Homo sapiens: one gene and its partners. The protein of the gene in region 6 purifies or fractionates together with the protein of the main gene of each other region. This does not show direct contact. Each region holds a gene or a part of one and is shown on either strand. Other genes may lie near its edges.

What was found.
Region 1: the proteins of UTRN (region 6) and CPNE2 purify together in Homo sapiens (co-immunoprecipitation; one large-scale study listed by IntAct). This does not show direct contact.
Region 2: the proteins of UTRN (region 6) and CFAP184 purify together in Homo sapiens (co-immunoprecipitation; one large-scale study listed by IntAct). This does not show direct contact.
Region 3: the proteins of UTRN (region 6) and CTNNAL1 purify together in Homo sapiens (co-immunoprecipitation; 2 studies listed by BioGRID and IntAct, with this or other methods). This does not show direct contact.
Region 4: the proteins of UTRN (region 6) and ZNF3 purify together in Homo sapiens (co-immunoprecipitation; one large-scale study listed by IntAct). This does not show direct contact.
Region 5: the proteins of UTRN (region 6) and ABCA1 purify together in Homo sapiens (co-immunoprecipitation; 2 studies listed by IntAct, with this or other methods). This does not show direct contact.
Region 7: the proteins of UTRN (region 6) and MARK3 purify together in Homo sapiens (affinity purification with mass spectrometry; 2 studies listed by BioGRID and IntAct, with this or other methods). This does not show direct contact.

Annotation. Positions count from the first base shown.
Region 1 is NC_000016.10:57,115,737-57,120,082, forward strand, and holds part of CPNE2 (copine-2), read left to right. Parts: intron 1-1,759; coding exon 1,760-1,831; intron 1,832-3,458; coding exon 3,459-3,542; intron 3,543-3,824; coding exon 3,825-3,914; intron 3,915-4,346.
Region 2 is NC_000004.12:7,040,349-7,044,339, reverse strand, and holds CFAP184 (cilia- and flagella-associated protein 184), read left to right. Parts: upstream 1-1,338; 5' UTR 1,339-1,401; coding exon 1,402-3,069; 3' UTR 3,070-3,491; downstream 3,492-3,991. Other genes in the region: TADA2B (transcriptional adapter 2-beta), read right to left, coding at 491-760. UniProt on the Homo sapiens protein: In complex with CFAP263, acts as a regulator of ciliary beating that connects radial spoke 3 (RS3) to the inner dynein arm (IDA) and the nexin-dynein regulatory complex (N-DRC).
Region 3 is NC_000009.12:108,944,295-108,947,851, forward strand, and holds part of CTNNAL1 (alpha-catulin), read right to left. Parts: intron 1-3,557. UniProt on the Homo sapiens protein: May modulate the Rho pathway signaling by providing a scaffold for the Lbc Rho guanine nucleotide exchange factor (ARHGEF1).
Region 4 is NC_000007.14:100,078,522-100,083,362, reverse strand, and holds the start of ZNF3 (zinc finger protein 3), read left to right. Parts: upstream 1-1,639; 5' UTR 1,640-1,728; intron 1,729-3,706; 5' UTR 3,707-3,827; intron 3,828-4,841. UniProt on the Homo sapiens protein: Involved in cell differentiation and/or proliferation.
Region 5 is NC_000009.12:104,788,292-104,792,637, reverse strand, and holds part of ABCA1 (phospholipid-transporting ATPase ABCA1), read left to right. Parts: intron 1-639; coding exon 640-702; intron 703-1,609; coding exon 1,610-1,716; intron 1,717-1,738; exon of another isoform or gene 1,739-4,070; coding exon 4,071-4,212; exon of another isoform or gene 4,213-4,346. UniProt on the Homo sapiens protein: Catalyzes the translocation of specific phospholipids from the cytoplasmic to the extracellular/lumenal leaflet of membrane coupled to the hydrolysis of ATP.
Region 6 is NC_000006.12:144,487,556-144,491,901, reverse strand, and holds part of UTRN (utrophin), read right to left. Parts: coding exon 4,205-4,346; intron 3,230-4,204; coding exon 3,068-3,229; intron 1,832-3,067; coding exon 1,703-1,831; intron 974-1,702; coding exon 800-973; intron 1-799.
Region 7 is NC_000014.9:103,468,359-103,472,704, reverse strand, and holds part of MARK3 (MAP/microtubule affinity-regulating kinase 3), read right to left. Parts: intron 1-4,346. UniProt on the Homo sapiens protein: Serine/threonine-protein kinase. Involved in the specific phosphorylation of microtubule-associated proteins for MAP2 and MAP4. Phosphorylates the microtubule-associated protein MAPT/TAU. Phosphorylates CDC25C on 'Ser-216'.

The DNA of each region.
Region 1 (4,346 bases), on a different chromosome or scaffold from region 6:
CAAGCTGGGGAGGCCTCCAGAGCCCTGCCAGCAGCCCCCTCCCTGCACTGGCCCCTGCCTGCCCTCCCCTGGGGGTCGTTCAGAAGTGCCCTGCCCATCAGTGCCCTGCTTGTGGCTGCGACGCGCAATGATTCCTGCAATGCGCAACGACTCCCGCGATGCGCAGTAATTCCGCTGGAGATGCACAGGCCCTTCGCCCGGATGAGCTCCTTGGTCTTCAAAGACTCCCAGAAGCCAGGGCCACCCCTGAGACCCAGAGAGGAAGTTCCCTGGGGCAGCTGAGCTAGCGAGATCGTCCCCTGGTTGTCTGGCTGGCTTCTGAGCCCACGCGATGCCTGGGAAGCCGGCCAGGCTGGAGGGAGAAGCCATGCCTTTGTGTGTTCCCGTGTGTTACTCCCCTGTCCTGGAACCTCACATGGCTCCCCACTGCCTGACCAACCCTTCGGTTCAAGGCTGTGAAGGACCCCTCAGACCCTGCCTGGCTCTCCTGCCTTGGTGTTTTTTTAATCTCCTTCACTTAAATGCCCTGCGTTCAAAGCAAACTGAATTCTTAGCATATCCTGAACATACCTCAGGCTCTTACTCTGTTCCTGCCCCCACGGATCACCACCTCCCAAACAACCTCCCCCAACCTCTTGGTTCCTAACTGGCCCATCTAAATGCCTTCCCAGGCCAGGTGCATGGCTTGCACCTGTAGCACTACTCCTTGGAAGGCTAAGGCAGGAGGATCCCTTAAGGCCAGGAGTTTGAGGCTGCAGTGGGTTATGATCATGCTACTGCCCTCCAGCCTGGGCAAGAGAGTGAAACCCCATCTCTGAATGAATGAATGAATGAATGCCTTCACAAGGCAGCTTCCACCTAGAAGCCATCTCAGACAGACCCCACTCACCCGGGTATGCCATCACCCCAGCATTTCTGGCAGTTCCACTCTAGGCCTCCATCCCGTCCCCTGGGAAATGGGGGTGATAATAGGACCTACCCTATAGGGTTGTTGAGCAAGTCCCAGTGGGAGGACGGCAGGGGAGAACGGGCAACATGGCTGGCCTCTGTCTGTGGGTCCAGAGGGCCAGATGCCTTGCGCTGGGTGAGGCCATCCTAGAGGCAGGAGAGGAGAGGAGGCCCCAGCGAAAGGCCCCAGCCCACTTGTGTTGCTGTGGGCAGCAGGGGAGGGAGAGAGGCCTACAGGGGGCCTCAGCAGTCTCGAAGTCGCCCAGCTAGGCCATCACTGGCTGGGCTGGGGTCAGGGAACCATAGCTGATGGGGAATGCATGGAGGACAGATGACCAATGTGAACTGATGGGACTCAGTTTCTCCCCTGGGCCTCAGTTTCCCTAGCTGTACAATGAAGTGGCTGTGATGCTGACACCTTGGTGTTCTGAGGAAGCTGTGCTCTCTGTGGCTGCCGCAGGGGCAGGAGAAGGCCGGTCATGCTGCTCTCTGGGCCAGAACCTCTCCCCGGGACTCAAGACCACCCCCGGTGTCTGGTCCTTGCTTCATCTCTGCCCACCACCCCATGGGCCCTGCGGATTTGCGTAGATCCGCTTCCTGACTCCTCATCTCCAGATGGGTTATTTTCCGCATTTTCCAGAAGATGGAAACTGAGGTGTGGGGAAGACAAGAGATTTGTCCAAGGTCACCTGGAACTGCCCTTCCCTTCCCCCTCCTAGCCCTGGAGGATTGCTCCTGGGGCACCCTGTGCCATCCTGCCTGGCAGGAGGCTGGGGGAGTCTGAGGAGCCCCTCATGTCCCGGCCTTACAGATCGCTGCCCAGGAGCTGTCCGACAACCGCGTCATCACACTAAGCCTGGCGGGCAGGAGGCTGGACAAGAAGGTAAGGCGGGCAGAGGAAGGGCTCCCATTGGGAACAGTAGCCCCCACCAGCCCCAGGGCTGTGTGGCCTCATTCCGGGACCTCGGGCCACCACCTCCATCACATTCTAGGGACTGGTCCAGCACGGGGCCCTCCTGGCCACTCCAGATTAGGACTCCTTCACCTCTGAGGTAGTGAGTGTTCCATCCCTTAGGGGTATTCAAAACACACCTGGAAACCTGCTCATTGGGGCATCCCCATCTCACTTAGTGTAAGTACATTCCAAGGTCCTTACCCAATGGGGCCCTGCCTGATGTGTCCCCAGTGCCCCGACTCTCCGACCTCACCCCTCCTCCCCGCACCTCACTCTGCTTCAGCCAAACCTAGCCCCTTGTCCGTGAATTAAACGAGGCACTCTCCTCCCTCAGGAGCTTTGCACTTGCTGTTCCCTCTGCCTGGGATGCTCTCTTCCTTGAATTTTCTCACGGCACCCTCTCACCTCCATCAAGCCTTTGCTCCCACATCACCTCCTCAACGAGGCCTTCCCTGAAATTGGTCTTCAATTTCCCACCCCCTCCTTCTCGTCTCCTTAACACTATTACTGTCTAGCATACTTTCTTTCTTTTTTTTTTTTTTTTGAGACAGAGTCCTGCTCTGTTGCCCAGGCTGGAGTACAGTGGTGTCATCTCAGCTCACTGCAAGCTCCGCCTCCTGAGTTCATGCCATTCTCCTGCCTCAGCCTCCCGAGTAGCTGGGACTACAGGCGCCTGCCACCACGCCCAGCTAATTTTTTTTTTTTTTGTACTTTTAGTAGAGACGGGGTTTCACTATGATAGCCAGGATGGTCTCGATCTCCTGACCTTGTGATCCGCCTACCTCGGCCTCCCAAAGTGCTGGGATTACAGGCTTGAGCCACCATGCCTGGCCCATACCTTCTTTACTTATTTTCTGTCTCCCTAACTTGAATATAACCTCTTTAAAGTAACAGTTGCCAGGTGCAGCGGCTCACACCTGTAATCCCAGCTACTTGGGAAGCTGAAGCAGGAGGATCACTTGAGGCCAGGATTTTGAGACCAGCCTGGGCAATATAGTGAGACCCCATAGATGGATGGATGGATGGATGGATGGATGGATGGATGGATGGATAGATAGATAGATAGATAGAGTGAGTCACATACAAAAAGTGGCACTTTTTAAACCTTAAATGATTTTTTAAAGGCCATGATATTCCTTATGTCATGTGCAGGATAGTTTCAGTTTTTCACATTCCCAATAAAATAAACTGAAATGACACCCTGCTGGGAGCCTCACCCTACCTTGGGAATAGTCACCCTCTTGAAGTCCTGGCCCATCTAAAATGCCGGAGTTCTGACTCACACAGGCTCTGAGTCTTGGAGGGTCTCTGAGCACAAGCTCTGACAGCCTCAGGGTGGGGGGTTTCTGCTGGGGGACCTGGTTGATCCCAGGGGGCTGCAGCTGCCCTGGGCCTCTTGCTGAGCCTTGCAGAGTCTGAGGGGAGGGGGCCAGGCTGGCTCTGCCCACAGCTCCTATCCTGACACCCGGCTGGGGAGGCAGCAGGGCCACACCCCCATCTGCCTGAACCTAGCAGGGCTGTACCTCTCTCACCCGCATCCTCCCACTTCTCCCAGGACCTCTTTGGGAAGTCAGACCCCTTTCTGGAGTTTTATAAGCCAGGAGACGATGGCAAGTGGATGCTGGTCCACAGGACTGAGGTGGGTACGTGGGGGCCCAGGGATCTCTAAGCAGTGGGCCTGCAGTCCAGCCCCTCCACAGCTCTGAAAAAGGGAGGTGCGGTCACAGCCGCTCAGTGTGCAGGAAAACCCACAGTGGCACCTGAGGGATATGCTTCCTCCCAGCCACAGGGACGCTCACTTCTGTCTCTGGAAGTGTGGCTGTGGGTCTGCATTTTGTCACCCTGTCCCCATTGGGCTGACCCAACCCCAGAGCACTGCTGCCCAGGGCCTGAGCTCACAGCATCCCTCTCTGTCCCACAGGTGATCAAGTACACACTGGACCCTGTGTGGAAGCCATTCACAGTGCCCTTGGTGTCCCTGTGTGATGGGGACATGGAGAAGCCCATCCAGGTGAGGGGGCTCTGGGGACCCTGCTCCCCACCTTGCCAGCTCCAGCCTCCCAGTCTACCTGAGGCTCCCGGGGATGCCTTGTAGAAAGCTCTTTCTCATACAAGTGGAACGAACCCCCATCTTTGGAGGAGGGAGGACTGGAGACTGGGTCCTCATCCTGGATCTATCTGATGCCCTGAAGTACCCGGGCAGGGCCCCCACCTTTGAGCCCCTCTCTAAAACTCTCTTGCCCTCCCCAGAGGGCTGCAGAGCTGCTAGCTAGGGAAACACCTTGGAAATTATCAAATTTGGCATGATGAGGACAGTGATTACCAGTCTCTCTAAAAGCTCTCAGTCCTCTGGCTGAGTGCAGTGTCTCATGCCTGTAATCCCAGCACTTTGGGAGGCTGAGGCAGGTGGGTCACTGGAGGTCAGGAGTTCAAGACCAGCCTG
Region 2 (3,991 bases), on a different chromosome or scaffold from region 6:
GGACCACACAGGGCACATGCATACAGTGACAGAAAGCAAACGGGGCCGCCCCAGAGACCCCGAGACAAGCCGCAGGGCGCCCACCGCTCTCCTTCCCTGGTGCTCCCACCGCTTTCTGTCGAGTCTGTGGGCCTGCCTGTCTCCACGAACTCAGGTAAGGCACCGAGTCTTGCCCAACGTCTGCACTCCGCAAACGCCTGTGAAGGCGTCCCTGAAGGTGAGGGAAATGGCTCTGCTGTCAGAAGCCAGCGTTCAAAGCCCCACTCGGCCCCGTCTCGGCTGTGTGACCTTGGGCGCGTCACAGCCTCTCAGAGCATAGGTTCCGACAGGTGCCCGACTATAAACCGGCAGCGTCGCCCTCCCCACCTCCGGGGCCTTCTGGGGTGCGGAGCGAGCGAGCAGGTCCAGCGCTGCCTGCGCGCCCGATTACAGGAGAGGCGCGGGCCTTCCAGTGCCCTAGCCGGGACCCGGCCCCCGTCGCGCCGCTCACCCAGTTTCCGAAGCCGAACTGCTCGATGGCGTCCAGCAGCAGCTGCTCCTCGCGACTGGTCCAGCCGCCCTCGGCCTCGGGCCCCCAGAGCGTGAAGCGCCCGCCGTCCACCAGCTGGTAGCCGTGGTAGCGGCGGTGGTGGCCGATCTCGGCGCCGGCCGAGAAGCACTCGGGGCACAGCTCGATGTCCTGGCACTCGGTGCAGCGGAAGCGCAGCGGGCTCACCTCGGCCAGGCAGTACACGCAGTACTTCTTCCCCAGCTCCGCCATCTTCCCCCGCTCGCCGCCCGCCGCCCGGCCCGCCGCAGCCGCCGCGCCCCCGGCCGTCAGCGCCCCGCCGCCCGCGGGACCCGCCGCCGCCGCCGCGCACGAGCAACCGCCGCCCGCCGCCGCGGCTGCCGCCACCGCGGCCCCAGCCCAGCCGCCGCCAGAGCCAGCCAGCCGGGCCGCGTCCCCCCTCAGTACGCAGGCGCCGTCCGGCCCGGCCCGGCCGCCACCGCCGCCGCAGCTGTCGCCCCGCCGCATCGCGCAGGCGCCCCGCGGGCGCCACCTTGCGGACGCCCGGCCCGCCGCTCTGCGCCTGCGCGCCCCCCGCGCCGGCCACCGCCGCCTTTCCCAGAGCCTCCTGAACGCCCCGCCCCAGGCCCGGCGGTGGGAAATGGGCAGGCAGAAAGCCCGGCGGGGGCGCCACGCCCCTCGCGGCGAGAGCCCACGGCCGCTTCCAATCAATCTCGCCTATCGTCAGCTCGCGGCCTCCCATTGGCTTGCTCTCGCCGGGCAGCGGGGAGAAGGCGCTGGACGACGGCCTGTCGCCTGGCCAATCGCCGGGCCCAGCGCGCGCGCCTTCTGTTGCCCCGGGAAACCTAACAGCGTCCTGCCGGGGTCCGCTGCGCTGGCCGAGCCGGGAGGAGATGGACGTCAGCTCTGAGCACACTAAGGACCCCGGCGGGGAAGGCGGAGACGGGGAAAGCCTGGCCGCGCGGCCGTCCAAGATCAAGGCCAGCTCTGGCCCTCCGACCTCTCCCGAACCCGGGGAGCTGGAGTCGGAGCCGGAGGAGGAGGAGGAGGAGCAAGCGGCTTCGCAGGGAGGCACCGCCGCGGACGAGCAGGCCGAGGCCCCGAAAGGGCTAACGGCAGCCGAGGCTGCGGGCGAGGAGGGGCCTGGAGAGCCGGGGAGGCCGGCCGAGCCCCAGCCCGAGCCCGAAGAGCCGGCCGAGGTTGGGGCTGAGGAGCCCGCCCAGCCGGAGCCCGGAGCCGGGCCCGAGGAACTAGAGGCGGAGGCGGGGGCGGAGGAACTGGAGCAGGCGGCAGAGGGGAAGGAAGTCAGGTTCCAGGCCTCTCTGCCGCTGACCAGGATCGATGAGGAAGAGGCTGCTGCAGCCCCGGAGGCCGAGACAGAGCGGGTGGAGGGGGAGGAAGAGGACAAGGAGGAGACGCAGAGAGACGGCGCGGAGAGCAAGGAGAGGGATGGGGAAGGACGCCCGGCCAAAAGCCAGGAAGAGGGGAAGCGCCTCTATGGAAGGGACGAGTTTGAGGACCTCGAGTGGTCCGAGGAGGTCCAGAAGCTGCAGGAGCAGCAGCTGCGCAGCGACCTCCTGGACCAGTACCGTTCCCTGCTGGTGGAGCGGAACCGCTCCCAGCGCTACAACCTATACCTGCAGCACAAGATCTTCGAGGCGCTGCGCAGAAAGAAGGGCCTGGAGGCCGCTGAGGTGGCTGACCGGGGCGCAGAGGCCGAGGCCCCCGAGAAAGAGCAAGCGTACCTGCGCCATCTGGGCATGCTGGAGGAGCTGAAGAAGCAGCAGGCAGACGACCTGCAGTGGTACCACCAGGAGCTGGGCCAGTTGAAGCGGCAGTGCCAGGAGAAGCTCACCAGGGTGGAGAAGGAGTGGCGACGCTTCCAGGCACTCAAGAAGCAGGTGGTGATGCAGGCCATGGGCAGCTGTCGGATGAGGGGCGGGCGCCAGGCTGCTCTGCGAGAGGTGGAGCAGATCCAGGCGTTGGAGGATAAAAAGGAGAAGGAGATGAGCGCCGTGCGGCTGGAGAACATTCAGCTGAAGCAGAGCCTGGTGCATTTTGAAACCAGGATGAGGACCCAGGAGGACCTGACCCAGGGTCTGCTTCTTATTGACTTTGAACAGCTGAAGATTGAGAACCAAACCTTCAATGAGAAAATTGAGGAACGAAATGAGGAACTTTTAAAACTTCGCAGCAAGGTGACCAACAGTGTGCAAGTAATAACCCACGTGAAGGAAAAGCTGCACTTCATGGACATGGAGAACGCGTGCAAAAAGACACAGCTGGCAGAAATCGAGGCCCAGGCCGCCCTAGGAAGAGACATCCTGACCAAGACGAAGCAAGCCCGAGAGGGGCTGCGGACGGACAACATCAGACTGAATCAGAAGTGCGGCCTTCTAGGCAAGGACTCACTTCTTCGGGACTTGGAAGAAAAGGTGGACAAGACCGAACTGCTTCACCGGCGCCTGGAATCCCTGAAGCGCCACCACGCTAGCCTCACTTTGTCCTGCAGAGGCGTGAGGCAGAAGATCAGGGAGGCCAAAGCCTTTCTCCCTTCTTGACCAGATCGATGAGAAGAGTCTGCAAAACACTTCATCCTCAGGACGTGCTGTCCTGCTTTATTTTACCTTCGTTGCTATTAAAAAGGCCTGTGTCATTTGGGACGGGACTCTATTTTGTATTTATCTCAAAACGTTTTAGCTTCCAAATCAGTGCTGAGCCCAAACCTGGGTTAGGAGTTTTATCTGGGATTGAGCAAAAATAGGTCCAGAAAAGCAAACAAAGGGTGATTTAATGTAACTGACTTCTCATGAAAAACTGTCAAAAGTCTCAAGTCTGAGCAATTCTATAATTTCAGTGATGTAATACTAAAGAGTACTGTTCCTCTTTCATATGTAGGAGGGTTTAAAAGTTCAGCGAATGGGCAAGGTACAAAAAAACCCTGTGCATTAAGCTAATTATTAAATTCTTTGGATTTATTAAATTATGTAGTCCCGAGACACTGTTTCAGTTAGAAGCTCACTAATCCCCTTAGATTAATCTTAAATTTAAGTGATTTTGGGCCGGGCTAGGTGGCTCACCTCTATAATCCCAGCATTTTGGGAGGCCGAGGTGGGCAGATCGTGAGGTCAGGAGATCGAGACCATCCTGGCTAACACGGTGAAACCCCATCTCTACTAAAAATACAAAAAATTAGCCAGACCTGGTGGCGGGCGCCTGTAGTCCCAGCTACTCGGGAGGCTGGGGCAGGAGAATGGTGTGAACCCTGGAGGCAGAGCTTGCAGTGAGCTGAGATCGCACCACTGCACTCCAGCCTGGGCGACAGAGCGAGACTCTTGTCTCAAAAAAAAATTTTTTTTATATGTGACTAGCACGAGCTTAGGGGGCAATAAAAATATCCAGGAAACAGGAGAGATGATAAACAGGAGAGGAGCTGATGTTTCTTCATCGTCCCTTTTTCAATGAAAGGGAGTTCAGTCTACT
Region 3 (3,557 bases), on a different chromosome or scaffold from region 6:
ATTCAGCCACACAAATTATGTCTAGATTACGCAAGGGACCTAGAGCTCATCTCAAATATGCTCAATTATAAAAGGATGATGAATTTTCAAGCATGAGGTCAAAAGGGTTAGGACCTTCCCAATTCCATCTAGGCAAGACAAAATTTGTCACCCATACATATTCCATAACCAGACATTTGAGAGAACCAATCCAGGTGGTTGGTTTTTGTTGCCACTTTTTTTCAGATTAATTTTCACTATTCACCATGTACCATGAATTCTATAATTTAATGAGATGAACAGGATGATGGAGAAGTAGAGTGAAAAAGAAGGTTGTACAGGTAAGACAGAAGTATTTAGCATATTATGTTAAAATGGTTTGCAGACTATTTTAGAGTGAGATGCCAGGGGAGTAAAGGGAGGAAGGCTTAGTTTTAGGTGGCGTCAGTAATAATGGAGAGAACAGGGAAAATCTGAGAGTGGTTTGTGAATGAAAATAATAGGTCTTCATAATAAATTAAAGAATACTAAGAAGGAGGAGGCAATAATTCCAGGGTTAATTTTTACCCTCTATTCAAAAGGCTTAACACCTTGCTATCACTGGATAAAATGATCTCAAGGTCAAATCGTACTTTGCAACCTTCCCTTTAAAAGGGAAACCAGTAAGCTTTACATCTAGACTCCAACCAAATGAAATGATTCACTTCCCCAAGTGTTCCTTATCACTTCATGTTACCACTTTCTATTCTGCAAATTTTCTCTTTCCTTCTAGCCTGCAAACCCCTTGGGGACAAAATCCATGTCTGTCTCATACAGTATGATGGTTTTAAAACTACCTGAAAGCTGGTAACTCCCAGGTCTCTCTCTCCACTCCTGAACTATCCTGACATCAGTCTTGTACAGTCATCCCTCAGTATCCATGGGAGATTGGTTCCCAGACCTCCCCAAGGATACCAAAATCTGTAGATGCTTAAGTCCCTTAAATAAAACAGTGTAGTATTTGCATATAACCTACACACATCATCCCATAAACTTTAAATCATCTCATCTCTAAATTATAATATCTAAGTTAATGTAAATGCTAAGTAAATCGCAGTTATACTGTATTGTTTTCCCTCCCTTGGAACTCTAACCTTTTAAAATGTATTTTGTTTTTTTTTACTGTTGTTATATTTTATTGGTTTTCTTCCTTTTTTTTTTTTTTTTGAGACAGGGTCTCACTCTGTTGTCCAGAGTGAAGTGAAGTGGTGTGATCACAGCTCACTACAGCCTTGACCTCCCAGGCTCAAGCGATCCTCCTGCCTCAGCTGCCTGAGTAGCTAGGATTACAGGTGTGTGCCACCATGCCCCGCTAGTTTTTTTTTTTTTTGTTTTGTTTTTTTGTAGAGACAAGGTCTCACTATGTTGCCCCAGCTGGTCTCAAACTCCTGGACTCAAGTGATCCTCCCAGCTTGGTCTCCCAAAGTGCTAGGGTTACAGGAGTGAGCCATTGTGCCCAGACTGTTTTTACTGTTTTGAATATTTTCAATCCATAGTTGGTTGAATCTGCAGATGCAAAACCTGCAGATAGGGAGGGCCAAGTGTATATCCTATCTGACCTTTGTACTTAACATGTGCAAAACAAAATGCTCGATTTCCACCCTCTAAATCTAGTGTTCTCCCTCAGTGTTCCCTGTCTCAGAAAATGGCACTACCACTCACTCTGTTGGCCAAGCCAAAAACCTTACTTAAAACATAATAGGATCAGCTGGGCATAGTGGCTCAGGCCTGTAATCCCAGCACTTTGGGAGGCTGAGGCGGGCGAATCACAAGGTCAAGAGATCGAGACCATCCTGGCCAACATGGTGAAACCCTGTCTCTACTAAAAATACAAAAATTAGCTGGGCGTGGTAGCGCACACCTGTAGTCCCAGCTACTCGGGAGGCTGAGGCAGAAGAATCACTTGAACCCGGGAGGCGGAGGCTGTAGTGAGCCGAGATCGTGCCACTGCACTCCAGCCTGACAACAGAGCGAGACTAAGTCTCAAAAAAAAAAAAAAAAAAGTCCTTCCCATGGCCTACAGAGACATCATATTTTACCCCTTTCCTTCTGGCTCACTTCACTCCCATCAATAATTGCCTCCTTACTCTTCTGATACACCCAGCCCTACCCCTGCACCTCGGGGCTTTGCACTTGTTTTGGCTATCTAAAATCCTCTACCCACATTTATCCATCCAACTCTCACTTCATTACTGTCTCTATTCAAACACTGGCTCCTTAGAGAGGTCTTTTCTGACCACCCCTCTATCACCTCTGTATTCTAGTCGTACGTGATTTTATCTCCAAGTACTTACATATGTGCACTGAATGCTTAAATTCTTATTGTCTATATTCTGCCATTAGAACATAAGCTCTATGGGGGCAGGAGCTTTGCTTTGTTCACTTTTCTCCACAGAGCTCTGTTCTCCCAGATCTGACATATAGCACAAGTTCAATAAATATTTGTTGAATGAAGTATGCAATTTTATGTTCATCACAGTTTGGAGACAATTCATTGAACATTGATTTAATGACTAAGCTCACATAGGAAGAAGGTAAGTAGTGGATCTTTTGTAGTAAAACACCCCTACAGGGCGGTATGACAGAATGGACTTGGGCCAAACTGAAAAAAAAAATAAATTCAGAATTTCAACTATCTTAAGGGAAATAGCTCATTTATAGTCTGCTTTACAGAAAAATCCAGAAGACACATTTTCTATAATACTTCTGATTATGTTGACAATCATCCTCTTAAGCTGAAATCCCTTTCCCACAGAATGCCAAATAAAACTATATGAGTGATAAAGTGATAGAAATTTCTTTCTTTTTTTTTTTTTTTTGAGATGGAGTCTTGCTCTGTCACCCAGACTGGAGTGCAGTGGCGTGATCTCAGCTCACTGCAAGCTCCGCCTCCCGGGTTCACGCCACTCTCCTGCCTCAGCCTCCCAAGTAGCTGGGACTACAGGTGCCCGCCACCACACCCAGCGAATTTTGTGTATTTTTAGTGGAGACAGGGTTCCACCGTGTTAGCCAAGATGGTCTCGATCTCCTGACCTCGTGATCCACCCACCTTGGCCTCCCAAAGTGCTGGGATTACAGGCGTGAGCCACCGCGCCTGGCCTAAAGTGATAGAAATTTCAAATCTCAGATGTACATGGGAATGCCAAAGGAGACTATATGAGTGATAAAGTGACAGAAATTTCAAATTTACACACAAGAATGCTCTTGGTTCTAGAGAGGCAAACAGGCTAACATGGGGATCAGGGAAAACATAAAAGGAATTTTGCAACCCACTTGCCAATCTAAAGCCTCTAACTAGAGGGAGTAGAATTACAGATGGGCCTATGTGGAGTCCTGTTAAGACACATGGCACAAGAGTGGATGTTAGCATATCTGTCTCTCCTTTAATGCCCTAAATCATCATGAATACTGAAGGAAAGAAGGAAACTAAGATGTACTTAATACCCTCTAATAGTCTTAAGCATTTTAACAGATACTCTCTCATGTGTTATCTCATTTAATCAATATATTTTATCCAATTCAATAATGAAGAGGCCAAA
Region 4 (4,841 bases), on a different chromosome or scaffold from region 6:
CAAGCCTGACCAACATGGTGAAACCTTGTCTCTACTAAAAATACACACAAATTAGCCGGGTATGGTATCACACGCCTGTAGTCCCAGCTACTTGGGAGGCTGAGGCACGAGAATCAGCCTGGGTGACAAGAGTGAGACTCCCTCTCAACAACAACAACAACAAAAAAAAAAAAAAAAAAAGGAAAAAGAATAAAAGAAACACATGTCAAAGGAAATCCAGCATAGAGTAATTTATTGCAAAAGGAAAATAGTATTTTGAAAGTTAAGTGCAGAGTAGACAGTACACCCTGGGAGAGAGAGAGATAGAGAGAGAGTTAGTTCAGGGAGGGCTGCTCCTAAGGATGAAACAGCAAAGGCTGGCTCTAGAGAGACCCCCTTTGTAAGGGGTCTTACACGATTATTCATAAGGGGGTGGGAGAAGTGTTACTAGTAAGTATGTTCTGGGTGGTCCTCTAGGTGCACATGCGCAGTGGGTGTACAGGCTTGTTCATACATTGCATGTTTCATTAGCATCTTAAATTTCCACCCAGGGGCGTGTTTTTTACCAAGATAATGAGCAAAGGGTCAGTTTGAGGACAGGTGAAATCAAAATGCGCATGCTCCCTACAGGGGAAAGTCCCTACTGGAGAGCGCTCAGCTTGAATGAGCTCAATTACAATGCGAATGCTGGGGCTTACTGTGTTGACTGCGGTCACCACGGTTGCCGCGTCTCCAGGACACGGTCACTTCCTTGACTATCCCCGCCTCGCTTCCACCTGTAGCTTCCTTTTTTTTTTTTTTGAGACAGTCTCACTCTGTGGCCAGCCTGGAGTACAGTGGTGCGATGTCGGCTCACTGCAACCTCCGCCTCCTGGGTTCAAGCGATTCTCCTGTCTCAGCCTCCAGAGTAGCTGGGATTACAGGCGTCTGCCACCACGCCCGGGTAATTTTTTTGTATTTTTAGTCGAGACGGGGTTTCGCCATGTTGGCCAGGCTGGTCTCGAACTCCTGACCTCAGGTGATCCGCCCGCCTCGGCCTCCTAAAGTGCTGGGATTACAGGCGTGAGCCTCCGCGCCCGGCCGGTAAGCTTCCTCTTCTCTGCTCTCATCACCTGTACACGGGTTTTTTCCTCATGTCAACTCTGTGATGGACTGGAATGTTTTCTTCAGATGTGGGTAATTTAAAGGGGGCATTTTTACAAGAAACAAAAAAAACTCGGTTTGTTCGGAGGCAAGTTTTAAATCAGGGTTCATTTTTTAATATTGATGAATCCTTCAATAATTGTATGTTTACTGCTGCCCTTCGCGAGCCAGCCTGAGAAGCGCGGGCTCGACATCCCCGCGCGCCCCCGCCGCCCGCCCCCAAGGCCGGCGACGCTGGAGCACATGTCCTGAGGCCCAGGACCGTGGTCGGCCGCTTTCGCACATTCGTGGCCAGCAGAGGGCGCAGCCGGCCAGCCCCCGCAGCGAAAGATCCCCGAGTGCCGCGTCAGCGATCGCGCTCCTTGCCCTCGCCGCCTGCCAGCCGCCCTGAGTCAGCAAACCACAGAGAGGCGAGGACCTCCCATTTTCCTAGACAGAACAAGTGGGCGTTGGGGGTACGGGTGAGTGGCAAGAACAACCGACCCGGAAGCGAAACGAGGGGGAACTTCCGTTCTTTGTTCTGTCCCCGGTGTGTGGGTCTGTGACAGGGTCCAACAGGGCCTGGTCCGTGTCCGGTCCCCCAAATCTGTCGTCCCTGCCCCCAGGGTGAGTCCACGCGTCCCCGGGTCTCGCGGTGAGACGGAGGCTGTGGTCGCCGGGGAAGGGGGTGGTGTCTGTGCCACTGCGGCCCGCAGGGTCCCCCGGCCGGCCCGGAGCAGGGTTCGGGGAGGCGCCCCTCCGTCCCCTGCAGCCCGTCCTCTACTCCGCTTCCCCAGGGATCCCCCTAGCCTAGCGGGATCCTGCGTAGGGGTTAGTAATGGGGCTCCGGTTCTGGTTTTGTGACTTTAACGGCGACCCAGCTGGAGCGTTTAAAAGTTTCAGCAGAGCGGTAGGGGCGCCTCTCTCTTGAAAGCAGCTAATGACAGCGACCCTAACTTGGTATTTCTCCCAGACGTTTTTATTTGATGTTAACACAGTTATTCGCGCCCGTGGCAGGAGAGGAAGTTTATTTTTACGCAGCTGGGTCCAAGGATCAGAGAAATTCTGCTAAGCGTACGCAGTTAGCACGAGGGCTGGGAGTGGGTGCAGACGCCGATTCCAGGGGTAATCCTGCTGGAGCCCAGTGCATCGCGTGATACACCTGGCTCAGGCTCCGTTTTCAGTTGTATTAGATTCCTGGTTTGATCCTCTCTCCGGAAGTGGGATTGAATCCACATCGGTGTTTACACTCTGAAGGGCTTTTGTAAACTCCAGGAGAAGATAGCAGAGTGATGAACCTGAAACCGATGGGCTAATTAGAGGAACGAGCGTATTATTTTCTCCAGAAAAGACATCTGTGGAGAGTGGGCATCATTTGATTATACGTGTTTGATGGACAGTCGGGTGGAAGGAGAAGATTCTGTTATTGAAGCTCTTTTTTTAAAAAAATTAATTTTTATTTATTTTTGAGACTGTCTCTGGAGTGCAGTGGCGCGATCTCGGCTCACTGCAACCTCCGCCTCCCGGTTCAAGCGCTTCTCCTGCTTCAGCCTCCCGAGTGGTTGGGACTACAGGCGCCCGCCACCACCTCCGGCGAATTTTTTGTATTTTTAGTAGAGACGGGGTTCCGCCCTTTTGGCCAGGCTGGTCTGCAACTCCTGGCCTCAAGTGATCCACCTGCCTTGGCCTCCCAAAGTGTTGGGATTACAGGCGTTAGCCACCGCGCCCGGCCTTTTTTTTTTTTTTCCTTTTAAAATGTTTGTGTGTGTATTAAGGTCTTGCTCTGTTGCCCCCGGCTGGAGTGCCGTGGTGCCATCATGGCTCACCATAGCCTGGAACTCCTGGGCTCAAGTAATCCTCCCACCTCAGCCTCCTAAAGTGCTGGGGTTACAGGCGTGAGCCACTGCAGGTCGCCAGTCATTGAATTTCTGTGATGCACTAGGTCTCTGTGCGGTGAAGGTCCAAGGAGATAGATTTTCAGCGAATCACCTGAAGACTTCTAATGGCTCAGCTGTGCAATGTGGATCCCCTGCTGAAGTAGTTCGGAGCACAGTGTCTAGCAAGTTAGCTGACAGAACGTTAGAACTTTCTTACCCTGGGTGGAGGTGGACCTGAGAACCTACCATTCCCTTTCATCTCTCCACGGGTGCAACGCAAATACTAGTTGTGGTGGTGGTCTTAATTGGTATTTATTAGCATATAATAAGTATTCTCTTTTTTTTCCTTTTCTTTAAATGTCTTGATTAGAAATGAAGTTTAGGCTGGACTCGGTGGCTCATGCCTGTAATCCCAGCACTTTGGGAGGCTGAGGTGGGAGAATCACTTGAGGCCAGGAGATTGAGACCAGCCTGAGCAACACAGTGAGGCTGCATTTCTACAAAAAGAATTTTAAAAAACTCAGCCAGATGTGGCAGTGCACACCTTTAGTCCCAGCTCCTTGGGAGGCTGAGCTGGGAGGATCACTTGAACTTAGGAGTTTGAGTCTGGAGTGAGCTCAAACTCACTGCACTCCAGCCTGAGCAGCAGAGTCAGACCCTGTCTCATGGAAAAAAAAAGACGTTTGCATGAATATTTTAAATTCCTTTTTTTCCCCTTAATCACACAGCATTGGCATCAACAAAAGTCAGAATTCCCGGGAACTTGAACAGAGGCTGCTAAATTCCCAGTAATTGCTCCTTTGGCCTTCTAGGGACTGACTTCAAAGAAGGAAGGAAAGAATCAGGCAGGTAAAGCTTTCCGTGTCTTGTTCTTACTGCCAGGCCATCTATCTCGGTCCCCACGGGCAGCACCAGGGAGTGAGGCTGGCAACAGAGCAGGGGAAGGGCCCTGTCTGGACCTGAAGCCATGGGGGCACAATGGAGAGTTTTCTTTCTGTGAGAAACGCTGTTTACTGATCTGGACACTGGGTGCTTGTTCTCAACAATATGCCTTTGAGTTCCAGCTTCACTTAACCCAGCTGTGAGAGGGAGCTGTTGCCTTTTTCTCTGGAGTCAGACCTTTGACCTGCCTTTCTAGGAGTTTGTACTGAAAGCTGACTTGTTGAGGGCGTCAGCTCATAAATAGCTCCGGAGATTGTAAAGGTGGTTGATAAGAGGATATGATGGTTGGCTCTGAGACACCATTGAAGGGACCCTGCTAGGAGGGCGATGGTGGCAAGAAGGTGTGTCACCTTGATTGCCAGTGGCCTGGCTTGTGCCTGAGTCAGTGCTTTCCACTGTGTAAGGGCTCTGGTATTGGACATTCTATATCCCCTGCTACCCGAAGACCAGAGTTGCCCAAACTTGCGACTGACTTTCAAACAGGACCCCTCTTCCTTTGTTCTTTTTTTTTCTTTTATTCTCTCAAACATTCTCTTATCCATTCCTCTTCCTTTGATGCCTTATGTGAGTGTAACAGTCTGTAATTATGAAGCACATACTTTTTGCATTCCCGATTTTTTTACTCCTTGCAGTTGTGAGTGGCAATAGAGTTAGCCCTCAGCAAACATTTGCTATGTGAGCAAATGAGTAAAGAGATAATGAGAGGTAGATCAAATCCAGGGTTGGTTGGTTTGTTTTGTTTTGTTTTGTTTTGTTTGAGACAGAGTCTCACTGTTGCCCAGGCTGGAGTACAATGGTGCGATCTTGGGTCACTGCCACCTCTGCCTCCCGGGTTCAAGCGATTCTCCTGCCTCAGCCTCCCAAGTAGCTGGGATTACAGGCGCATGTAACACCATGCCCAGCTAATTTTTGTATTTTTTC
Region 5 (4,346 bases), on a different chromosome or scaffold from region 6:
ACACCATGGAGACTTCTTAAAGAATTCTTACTGAGAATTCTTTTGTGATATGAATTCCCATTCTCGAATACATTGGTTTTATATGCTTACATTTATGTGTTAGTTATTAAAACATACTAATATTGTATATCTAGTCAAAACTGAGGTAGAGAGAATAAATGGTTGATTTTGAGTTTGAGTTTCATAGTCCAAAAAGCTGATATATTGCCTGTGTTCAAGAGGGTCTATATCAGCCCTCTAGATGCCAGCATCTCCAAATTTTACTTTTTTGGAATCTGTACAGTATTTGCAATATTTTTATTACAAATTTCTACTCTGTGGAATTTAATTTTTAAAATACCTGCAATACATATATATGTTGAATAGATGAAAAATTATGTAGATAATAATGAATGATACGGTTCTAAAAAGACAGGTTAAAAAGTAAGTTCACTTTTATTTTGAGCTTCAGAATCATTCAGAAGCCAGTCGCCACAAACGCAGACCAAGGCTCTTGGCACATCAAATATGCCTATGGCTTAGGGTTATTGACAAGTCTTATGTTGCAGTGTATGTGGTTTATAGTCCTGCCTTCCACAGTTGCTTGGGAGAGCTGTGAGTCACTGAGGCTTATGAATGTTTACATTTTGTTTGTTGCAGATATATAGAAGGAAGCGGAAGCCTGCTGTTGACAGGATTTGCGTGGGCATTCCTCCTGGTGAGGTAAAGACACTTTGTCTATATTGCGTTTGTCCCTATTAGTTCAGACTATCTCTACCCAATCAAGCAACGATGCTCGTTAAGAGGTAAAAGTGGATTTTAAAGGCTTCTGTATTTATGCCAGGATGGAGCAATTAGTCATCGAGAAGAGAGGGACCCTGTATGTCAAGAGAATGATTTCAGAGAATCCAATACAATTTAAGAAAAAGCATGGGGCTGGGCGCAGTGATTCACTCCTGTAATCCCAGCACTTTGGGAGGCCGAGGTGGGCGGATCACGAGGTCAGGAGATTGAGACCATCCTGGCCAACATGGTGAAACCCCATCTCTACTATAAATACAAAAATTAGCTGGGCATAGTAGTGCATTCCTGTAGTCCCAGCTACTCGGGAGGCTGAGGCAGGAGAATTGCTTGAACCTAGGAGGGGGAGGTTGCCCAGATTGCGCTGCTGCACTCCAGCCTGGTGACAGAGTGAGACTCATGTCAACAACAAAAACAGAAAAAGCACGCACATCTAAAACATGCTTTTGTGATCCATTTGGGATGGTGATGACATTCAAATAGTTTTTTAAAAATAGATTTTCTCCTTTCTGGTTTCCGTTTGTGTTCTTTTATGCCCTTTTGCCAGAGTAGGTGGTGCAATTTGGCTAGCTGGCTTTCATTACTGTTTTTCACACATTAACTTTGGCCTCAACTTGACAACTCAAATAATATTTATAAATACAGCCACACTTAAAATGGTCCCATTATGAAATACATATTTAAATATCTATACGATGTGTTAAAACCAAGAAAATATTTGATTCTTCTCTGATATTTAAGAATTGAAGGTTTGAGGTAGTTACGTGTTAGGGGCATTTATATTCATGTTTTTAGAGTTTGCTTATACAACTTAATCTTTCCTTTTCAGTGCTTTGGGCTCCTGGGAGTTAATGGGGCTGGAAAATCATCAACTTTCAAGATGTTAACAGGAGATACCACTGTTACCAGAGGAGATGCTTTCCTTAACAAAAATAGGTGAGAAAAGAAGTGGCTTGTATTTTGCTGCAAAGACTTTGTTTTTAATTTATTTAAAGAAATAGGTTGTTATTTTTGATTACAGTGGTATTTTTAGAGTTCATAAAAATGTTGAAATATAGTAAAGGGTAAAGAAGCACATAAAATCATCCATGATTTCAATATCTAGAGATAATCACAATTTACATTTCCTTTCAGTCTCATTCTCTTCTTTTAACAGCTTTATTCAGGTATAATTTACATACAATATAATTTGCTTGTTTTTTAAGAGTATAATTTAGTGATTTTTGGTAAATTGAGAGTTTTGCAACCATCACCACAATCCAGTTTTAGAACTTTTCCATCACCCCACATCTGTCTTATATACACATATAAATGTGCCATACAATTGAGATCATACTGTATGTAGAATTTAAAATTAGTTTTTATTGTTAATGAGTGTATTATGAATATTTCCCAGTGGGTTACATTTCCTAAGATGTGGAATTTTACATTGCTACATAAAATCCCCCTATGTACATGTACCTATAATTTATTTAATAAATTCCTTATAAATGTTGGACACATTAGTTTCCATTTTTCACTATGTAAATATGTCCCTGTATACATCTTTTATTATTTCCTCAGGAACAATTCCTACAAAGTAAATTGCCCTCTCTAAAGAGCATACAAATTGACTGAGCCACCGTTAGGCCATTTTCTGAGACTGCACAGGTCACAAAGCAATCTGATCTTTGGGAATACAGCTACATTTTATAGGCTTCTTAGATAATGTTACTCTAAGTACTTTAAATATGTGGGGCTTCTCTGGGCTTTTTTTTTTTTGAGACGGAGTTTCACTCTTACTGCCCAGGCTGGAGAGCAATGGCGCGACCTTGGCTCACTGCAACCTCCGCCTCCCAGGTTCAAGCGATTCTCCTGCCTCAGCCTCCTGAGTAGCTGAGATTACAGGTGCCCGCCACAATGCCTGCCTAATTTTTTTGTATTTTCAGTAGAGATGGGGTTTCACCATGTTGGCCAGACTGGTCTCGAGCTCCTGACCTCAGGTGATCCACCTGCCTCAGCCTCCCAAAGTTCTGGGATTACAGGCATGAGCCACTGCGCCCGGCTTCTCTGGACTTATTATGTGGAGAGATAGTACAAGGCAGTGGCTTTCAGAGTTTTTTGACCATGACCGTTGTGGGAAATACATTTTATATCTCAACCTAGTATGTACACACAGACATGTAGACACATGTATAACCTAAAGTTTCATAAAGCAGTACCTACTGTTACTAATTGTAGTGCACTCTGCTATTTCTTATTCTACCTTATACTGCGTCATTAAAAAAGTGCTGGTCATGACCCACTAAATTTATTTCCCAAACCACTAATGAACAATGACTCACAATTTGAACACACTGGACAGGGGGATAGCCAATAAAATTGAAAAGAGCAAGGAAATTAATGTATTCATGATCTCCTCTCCTGTCTCTTACATTTTTGCAGTAGCAATGTAAAGGAATCCTAAGAGAACAGACATTCTGGGAATAGCAGGCCTAGCGCTGCACAACTGCTTTCCTAGGCTTGCTCCTAGTACCAAGCTCCTGACGCATATAGCAGTGGCAGTAATAACCAGCCCATAGTAAGGTTTGTCACAGGGACTGGTTGTAAGAACTGATTTGGTTGGTATAGCTGTGAGGGCCTGGCACGGTGTCCACGTGTGCCTCAATCCTAATTCTGAAAAAGGCTGACCCTGGGGGTGCTAATTAGATACACAGAGAGGAATGAATGCTGCCAGAAGGCCAAGTTCATGGCAATGCCGCTGTGGCTGAGGTGCAGTCATCAGTCTGGAACGTGAACACTGAACTTCTCTCACATGTGATTCTTCACTTGACTGGCTTCATAGAACCCCAAAGCCACCCCACCACCACATAAATTGTGTCTCTAGGTTCTGTGTTGCTCACACTCAAAATTTCTGGGCCTTCTCATTTGGTGCATGTGAATGGTGCATATGAGTGAAGTCTAGGATGGGGCCTTAGCGTTAAAGCCCTGGGGTAGTGTGACTGAGATTGTTGGTAAAGAATGTGCAGTGGTTGGCATGACCTCAGAAATTCTGAAATGGGACTGCACCTGCAGACTGAAGTGTTCAGAGAGCCAGGGAGGTGCAAGGACTGGGGAGGGTAGAGGCAGGAACCCTGCCTGCCAGGAAGAGCTAGCATCCTGGGGGCAGAAAGGCTGTGCTTTCAAGTAGCAGCAGATGTATTGGTATCTTTGTAATGGAGAAGCATACTTTACAGGAACATTAGGCCAGATTGTCTAACCAGAGTATCTCTACCTGCTTAAAATCTAAGTAGTTTTCTTGTCCTTTGCAGTATCTTATCAAACATCCATGAAGTACATCAGAACATGGGCTACTGCCCTCAGTTTGATGCCATCACAGAGCTGTTGACTGGGAGAGAACACGTGGAGTTCTTTGCCCTTTTGAGAGGAGTCCCAGAGAAAGAAGTTGGCAAGGTACTGTGGGCACCTGAAAGCCAGCCTGTCTCCTTTGGCATCCTGACAATATATACCTTATGGCTTTTCCACACGCATTGACTTCAGGCTGTTTTTCCTCATGAATGCAGCAGCACAAAATGCTGGTTCTTTGT
Region 6 (4,346 bases):
ACCTATACATCATCATCTCAACATCTCATAGGACGCTGTCATGTAACAGACCCCTGAACTATGTATGTTCCATGAAGTCAAGGACAGCACTTTCTCTGATTACCATTATGTCACAATAATCAAATAAATACTTACATACATGCACATATATATTAAAATTTATCCTTTGTTTTGAAAAGCACAAAGAACTGTCCCTATACCTCTCCTGTCCTAAAGAGTCTCATCTTAAGTTCTGTGATTCTCAAGCAGAACACTAATTCTAAGATTGTGTCCCCTTAGCCACATTATTTTTAAATTTCTATTCAATTGAATTATAAAGTTCAAGACTAAAAAAGTAATAAGGCCTTATATATCATTTCTTCTTTCCTATCTTAAGGTTTAAATTTCTATTGAAATTTTTATTTTCCTAGAAAATGGAATTTTTACGATATCCATTCTAAGTATGGTTCTTCTAGCTAATTCAAATTTATCCTTGAAAACTTTGCTTATTAGTCACACTCTGCTGAAGCCCTCCTAACTTCACATGGTGATTAAGCTGTATTTCTTTTGTTTTGGTTTTTGTCATCATGTTATATACATGTCTATTCTAGTTTCCTTAGCTATCTCTCTTATCTCTTCTAATTTCTTTGGAGGGAAAGACCACACTTCTTATTTTTTAACACGTTTTCCATCATCAATCCTTATGTTTAGCACACTGTAGACTAGTGATCACTGGACACACTAGGCATGTACTTGCTAGACCAAGCCATAACAGCTGCTGAAAAAGCCACTGGATGTGCCAATCACCCAAAAGCCTCACCATACACTTGTCCAGGTGCGTCTGTATGACGTCAGGGTCTACGTCCTTCACATCCAGAACGTGAAGTTCTGCTTTCACGCCATCCAGCACACGCTTGCAGTCCAGCATGCGCTGCTCGAAGTTAGCTGGCTTCTGGAAAAGCTGGAACTTTGTGGACACCTCTCGGAGTTTCCTCTGTTTGCAGAAATGAAAATATGCAATTCCCATCAGGATGATTATCTCTCTCATCATGAGCATAACAGATACTACTAAAAATTTGTACCATAAAGTACCAAAAGAAAAAAATTCAGAAATATGACCCAAAATAAAAAACTCCTAATGAATCTCAGTGAGGGTACCCGATCACCTAAGTGAACTGCATAGCCCAGTGTCAAAAATTACAACACTCAGTGTCTCAATCTCAGAAGTAATAGATTTGGATAAGAAATTTAGATAAAGCTGACCTCACTGGAATTAAAACTTCATGTTCAAAAAGATAGTTCAGGAACCTAGAACTCAAAATGCCCTTCATCACAAGTTCAGAGTGAAAGTCAATGTCATATCAACCATGAAAGAACTAAATGATGCTGCATCCAATTCATGCTCGGCCTGCCCACAGCATCAGCCACACGATACTGACAGAGGCTCTGCATTAAAGAAAAAGTGTATATAAAGCTAACTTCTAAATCTGGCTCACTCTCTTGTTTCTCATCTCAGCTATCAAAATCAGATTTCATATTTTTCCACACATGCAACAATTTGTTTCTGCTGCCCTAGGATGCAACCTTCAACACATCATCACTCCCATCCCATGGTTTACATCACAAAGAATACAAACGGTGCCCAAGTAATCAATTCTTTCTCTTTTTTGAAGAAAATTCCCAACAAGTTGAAAAGTAAAAGGAAGCTCCTGGCCTTCTTTACCTGTAGCACATCCATCTGACTTCCTCCTCTGGCAGTCCTACTCTCTGGGGAGGTCAGGGGCTGAGAACGCATATTTCTTCTCAACTCCTCTAGGGTTAGCTCATGGGCTGAGATCTCTGCTTGGATTTTCTAAAAAGAGATTGGAAAGGGGAGAGGATGTCCTTTTTTTTTTACTTAAGTATAAAAAGAGACAATACAAAAGTTCTATATCGTTGTGTAATACATGATATCGTATTTTACATAATGTTGACCTCCACAGAAGCTTTAATAAGTTTTTGTAGGCCAGGTGCGGTGGCTTATGCCTGTAATCCCAACACTTTGGGAGGCCGAGGCGGGTGGATCACGACATCAGGAGTTCAAGACCAGCCTGGCCAAGATGGTGAAACCCCATCTCTACTAAAAATACAAAAATTAGCTGGGCACGGTGGCGGGCGCCTATAATCCCAGCTACTCGGGAGGCTGAGGCAGGAGAATTGCTTGAACCTGTGGGGCAGAGTTTGCAGTGAGCCGAGATCGCGCCACTGCACTCTAGCCTGGGCAACAGAGTGAGAATCCGTCTAAAAAATAATAATAATACGTTTTTGTATAATAATAATAATATGGCCCACTGCATGGTATGACTATTGTACATGACGCACCTGCTAAGGGCTTTGCATTTGTCGTTTCTAATGTTCACAACTTATTTATAAGGAAGGAATTGTCCCAACTTCACAGCTAAGAAAACTACAATTTAAAATATACAGGACTTTTCAGCCAGGCACAGTGGCTCACGCCTGTAATCCCAGCATTTTGGGAGGCCGAGGAAGGTGGATCACCTGAAGTCAGGAGTTTGAGACTAGCCTGGACAATATGGCAAAACCCCGTCTCTACTAAAAATACAAAAATTATTGGGAGGCCGAGGCAGGCAGATCACTTGAAGTCAGGAGTTCAAGACCAGCCTGGCCAACATGGCGAAACCCCGTCTCTACTAAAACTACAAAAAATTAGCCGGGCGTGGTGGCGCGTGCTTGTAGTCCCAGTTATTCGGGAGGCTGAGGCAGGAGAGTCACTTGAACCCAGGAGGCGGAGGTTGCAGTGAGCCAAGATCGTGCCACTGCACTCCAGCCTGGGTGACATAGTGGGATTCTGTCTCAAATAAATAAATAAAATAAAATAAAATAAAATAAAATAAACTATATAAGACTTTTGCCAGAGTCTCACATAGAAAGCAAGAGAACTCCAAAACCCAAATGCTGCCCTGTAAGTAAGGTCAATCTTTCCCATTGACTCTCGGTTTTGGAGAGCAGGAGGGGTTCTCTTATAGTTGAGGAGGCAATTACAAAAGCTCTCTTTACAGCTCAAAAGCCCTCAAATGCACGGCAATACCTGAGCTTCCTGTGGAACTTGGAAAGCATCTATCCTGTCAGTCAGGTATGTGGTGAGCTGTTTGTCCAGCTCCCCCAAGCTCTCTTGCAAGACTTGAAGCATCTGGTCAGTTTCCCGCAGCACCTGGAGTTGCTTTTCCAAAGAAATCTGCTTGCTCTCTGCCTGCACAAAGGAGAAATTGAATCATTAGTTGCCCAACACAAATATAAATAGCAGAATATATATATTCTGGCCACTAAGAAAAGACCATAAAAGCTTTCATCCAAGACTTTAGCTTTCTTTATAAATAAATAATAATTACTAATGATAACAGTGAAAATGTCCCACTAGGATCTTATGTACCATGCAGCTGAATTACTAATTATTACTTCTTTCTATATATAATGTTGAAATACAAAAATGTAAAGGTTTCCCATAAGATGCATTAAACAGAAGATAAAAATGTGTTATTTATTATAATTTTAAAGCATTTTTAGGAATCAGCAATGTCTGCCAATTAAGAATATAAAACATAAGAAAAATGTCTATCAATACACAAACATCAGAGTCTCTTTTTTTCCAAAGCCTAAAACAAATTCTATAGGTGTACATACATATCAAACTACTATTTACAGCACTTTTGGGTTAAGCTTGATGTTATTCATGGGCTGAACATCAACAGTTATTATTTAATATGTGTTTGGAAGCACCTAATATTCATACCCAACCTTCCTATAAAAGAAATGTTCTTTCTCTAATTTGTGATACGAATATGTATGTTACAACCTGGATATGAACTAAGAGACTATGGCTTTCACAGCAGCTTATGTGAAATATCATGGCCCTAATATTTACTAGGATAGTATGAGTTGTTGTTCTTATATACAGCTATCATATGATCCTTAATGAAAATTAAATGTTTGTAAGTAGAAGTAATCTCAAAAATAATTTTTTTAATCATCCAGTTCTGTCTTAGAGTGTTAGATCTATTCTTCCTTTCTGAATATTTCAATACCCTCAATGCCCCTGTTAGCATTGGTTACCAACTTTAACCAACATTAAAGATTTTTCCAACATTAAAGCTCTATGATATGGAGCTTAGGGCCAGCTCCACTTCATCAATACCTAATCAACACCCATGTATGTCCCAACTCTTACCAGGTGACTTAGATCTTCATATCGGCTGTTGAAAGCCTCCAGTTTCTCACTGATTATATCATCCAGGATCCCCCCATCAATCAGAGTCTGGCCAAGCTCTCGAATCTGGGTGCGATTATCTGCCGGGTGGCGCAGAACAGAT
Region 7 (4,346 bases), on a different chromosome or scaffold from region 6:
GTAGTCCATGGTATGGATGTGTCACACAGAAATTTCATTTTTTTTTTTTTTTTTTTTGAGATGGAGCCTCGCTCTGTTGGCCCAGGCTGGAGTGCAGTGGCATGATCTTGGCTCACTGCAAGCTCCACCTCCCAGGTTCACGCCATTCTCCTGCCTCAGCCTCCTGAGCAGCTAGGACTACAGGCACTTGACACCAAGCTCAGCTGATTTTGTTTTTGTATTTTTAGTAGACACAGGGTTTCACCGTGTTAGCCAGGATGTTCTCGATCTCCTGACCTCGTGATCCGCCCACCTCGGCCTCCCAAAGTGCTGGGATTATGCGACCGGCCAGAAATTTCATTTTTATGTAATCAAATTTGTAAGTCTTTTATTTCATGGGTTTGGTGTTTGGGGTGACAGAAACACCTTCACCAGTCCAAGTTACAAAGCAAATAATCCCAAGGTTTCTTTCAATATTTCTGGAGTTTTATTTACATCTTTTTTTTTTTTTTTTTTGAGACGGAGTCTCGCTCTGTCGCCCAGGCTGGAGTGCAGTGGCTCGATCTCGGCTCACTGCAAGCTCCGCCTCCCGGGTTCATCCATTCTCCTGCCTCAGCCTCCTGAGTAGCTGGGACTATAGGTGCCCACCACCACGCCTGGCTAATTTTTTCTATTTTTTAGTAGAGACAGGGTTTCACCATGTTAGCCAGGATGGTCTCGATCTCCTGACCTCGTGATCCACCTGCCTCGGACTCCCAAAGTGCTGGGATTACAGGCATGAGCCACTGCGCCCAGCCCTATATTTGTATCTTAACTCCAATTAGAATTCATCCTTGTATAAGATGTGAGAAATTGATCCAAATTAATTTTTTTTCTGAGAACTACCAAATTGCCCCAATACCACTCATTGATTAGTAAACAGTGATTTTTTTTTTCATTTTTTAAAAAACAAGCTAACCCCTTGAAAATCAGATGATCACCATTCGCAGAAAAAGTGCACACATATGGGGTGTTCACATGTGGGTCTCAAACGAGGAAGGACAGCTACAGATTACATCGTAGCTTTAGAGAAGCAGGCACCCATGCAGAGGTCAGCATCCACAGGCAAGGAAAAGGGAAGGGAGAGGTGAGACGAGGCAGGAGGATGAGGTGAAAGTTAGCCCGGCTATACAGGCTTGCCTGCCTTCAGAAATTCCAAGAAAGATGAGGATTATGAAAAAGCTACTCCAATGAGGTGCTTCAGTGGAGAAAAAACACAGGGCTTGGACCAGCAGGCCTGAGCTCTGCCCCAGGTGTTTCTCATTTACTATGTAACCTTGGGAGACTTGGTAATCTCTCTTGGTCTATTTAGGGATAAAACAGAGGTTTGGTGAGTGTACAATACCATGTCTAAAGCTCTTTTTATCTCTAAAATTGAGCTGGGGGGAAAAAGGCACTAATAATCTGGATGGAATCTATGTGCTTAAGGAATAACTTACTAACATATTCCTTAGAGAAATGTGAAAATCCCATTGTCAGGTTTCTTCTAGGATTGAGGGACAAGTTAAACCAGATGGTTTCAGGGCAATATATGGGCATTTAATTGCCATGTGGTCCATAAGCACTAGAAACCCCCCTTGTTAGTGACTAACATGAACACAAAAAAGGCAGACCTAGATCAACACGTCACCTACAAATGCTAGGAGCACAAATCCTGATGTGAGAATGAGTTCTGAGCTCTCAGTTACACCCTAGAATAGCAGGCACTGTAGATGGTTTACTAGTGATATTAGTACACTGTTGCTTCAGTCTAAACCATGTAGAAAGGCAAGCAACAGAAGGAAGAGAAATGGAAATCAAGCCAAGTGTAATCATTTTTAGTACAAAATCAAAGCTGTCCACACCTAAAATGCCCTGTGCAGTCCTAAGTGTCAAATCTCAAGATGAAAGTATTAAGATGGAAAATGTCCAGAGAAGAGAAATAAAATGAGGCCGAGCGCAGTGACTCATGCCTGTAATCCGAGCACTTTGGGAGGCTGAGGTGGATGGATCACCTGAGTTCAGGAGTTCGGGACCAGCCTGGCCAAATGTGGTGAAACCCCGTCTCTACTAAAAATAAAAAAATTAGCTGGGCATGGTGATGCATGCCTGTAGTCCCAGCTACTCGGGAGGCTGAGGCAGGAGAATTGCTAGAACCCAGGAGGCGGAGGTTGCAGTGAGCCGAGATCGCGCTATTGCACTCCAGCCTGGGTGACAAGAGTGAAACTCCATCTCAAAAAAAAAAAAAAAAATAGATTTAGTTCCTGAATCCTGGAATAGTAGAATTAAAGGAAATATCTGCAATGTTAACATTTATAGTTATGGGCAAGTAAACACACACGCTAGCCTCAGGACTCTGACACACAGGCTGCCTTGAAGGCAGAGCAACTGTAGAGCCTGGTAAGCCTACCCACTGGGAGTCTTATGTCTCATAAAGGACTGGCTTCTAGGTGAAGTTTAAAAGGGAGAGTGGCTTAACCACACTAACAGCAAGAGTATGGATGAGAATGACACAGTACAACATTTAAACCAATTAAGGCAAAACTGAGGTTCCATATATTCTCCAGGGCTGTCCTGTCTATTATGAGAGTTACTGGCCACAACTGGCTATATATTACACTTAAGTACAAATTTTTTTTTTTTTTTTTGAGATGGACTCTCACTCTGTCACTAGGCTGGAGTGCAGTCACACGATCTTGGCTCACTGCAACCTCTGCCTCCCAGGTTCAAGCGATTCTCCTACCTCAGCCTCCTGAGTAGCTGGAATTACAGGCACACACCACCATGCCCAGGTAATTTTTTTATTTTTAGTAGAGATGGGGTTTCACCACGTTGGTCAGGCTAGTCTCGAACTCCTGACCTAGTGATCCACACGCCTCGGCCTCCCAAGGTGCTGGAATTACAGGCATGAGCCACCATGTCCGGCCAGGAAAATTTTAAAAGGGTAAAAATCAGCCAGGCCAATTACAGACTCACACGTGTAATCCAGCACTTTGGGAGGCCAAGGTGGGTGGATCACCTGAGGTCAGGAGTTCTAGACCAGCCTGGCCAACATGGTGAAATCCCGTCTCTACTAAAAATACAATATTGGCCAGGTGTGGTGGTGTGTGCCTATAGTCCCAGCTACTTCGGAGGCTGAGGTTGCAGTGAGCGGAGATCATGCCATTGCACTCCAGCCTGGGTAACAAGAGCAAAATTCCATCTCAAAAAATAAACAAATAAATAAGGCCAGGCGCGGTGGCTCACACCTGTAATCCCATCACTTTTGGAGGCCAAGGTGAGTGGATTGCTTGAGCTCCCAAGTTCAAGACCAGCCTAGCCAATATGGTGAAACCCTGTCTCTATTAAAAATACAAAAATTAGCCGGGTGTGGTTGTGCATGCCTGTAATCCCAGCTACTCAGGAGGCTGAGGCAGGAGAACTGCTGGGACCTGGGAGGTGGAGGTTGCAGTGAGCCAAGATCATGCCACTGCATTCCAGCCTGGGCGACAGAGCCAGATTCCATCTGAAAAATAAATAAATAAATAAATAAATAAAAATAATAAAAAATAAATAGAAATAAAAAAGGTAAAAATCATTTCCTCAGTTCAAGTACTTGATAGCCACAAGTGGCCAGTAGCTTCTTGACTGGACAGCACAGATACACAAAACTGTAATCATCTCAGAAAGTTCTACTGGACAGTGCTACTCTACAAAGTAAATCCAATGCAGAGGTGAAGAGAGTGAATAGAACTACAGACTAGCAGTTCTATTCAGTTCGGTACAGCGCCCAGTTCTAGCGCTGGGCATGGTGGCTCACGTCTGTAATCCTAGCACTTTAGAACGCTGTGGTGAGAGAATAGTTTGAACTTGGGAGTTTGAGACCAGCTTGGGCAACATAGCGAGACCCCCATCTCCATTTAAAAAAAAAAAAAAAAAGGAAAACTACAGATTAAAGCAGAGGTTCTAGAAGGGCAAATGGTAAGGTTTCCACTCAACTAAGCTTTATCCAGCAAAAATCTACTGCATGTATAAAGAAGATAAGAGCCTTGAAGTAATATGTAATCATGGCAGCACCTGCAGGAACACTAAGAAAAAATGCTGGCCAGGCACGGTGGCTCATGCCTGTAATTCCAGCGCTCTGGGAGGCCAAGGCAGGTGGATCACTTAAGGCCAGGAGCTGAAGACCAGCCTGGCCAAATGTGGTGAAACCCCGTCTCTACTAAAAATACAAAACTTAGCCAGGCATGGTGGTACACACCTGTAGTCCCAGCTATTCAGGAGGCTGAGGCAGGAGAATCGCTTGAACCTGGGAGGTGGAGGTTGCAGTGAGCCAAAATTGTGCCACTCCACTCCAGCCTGGGCAACAG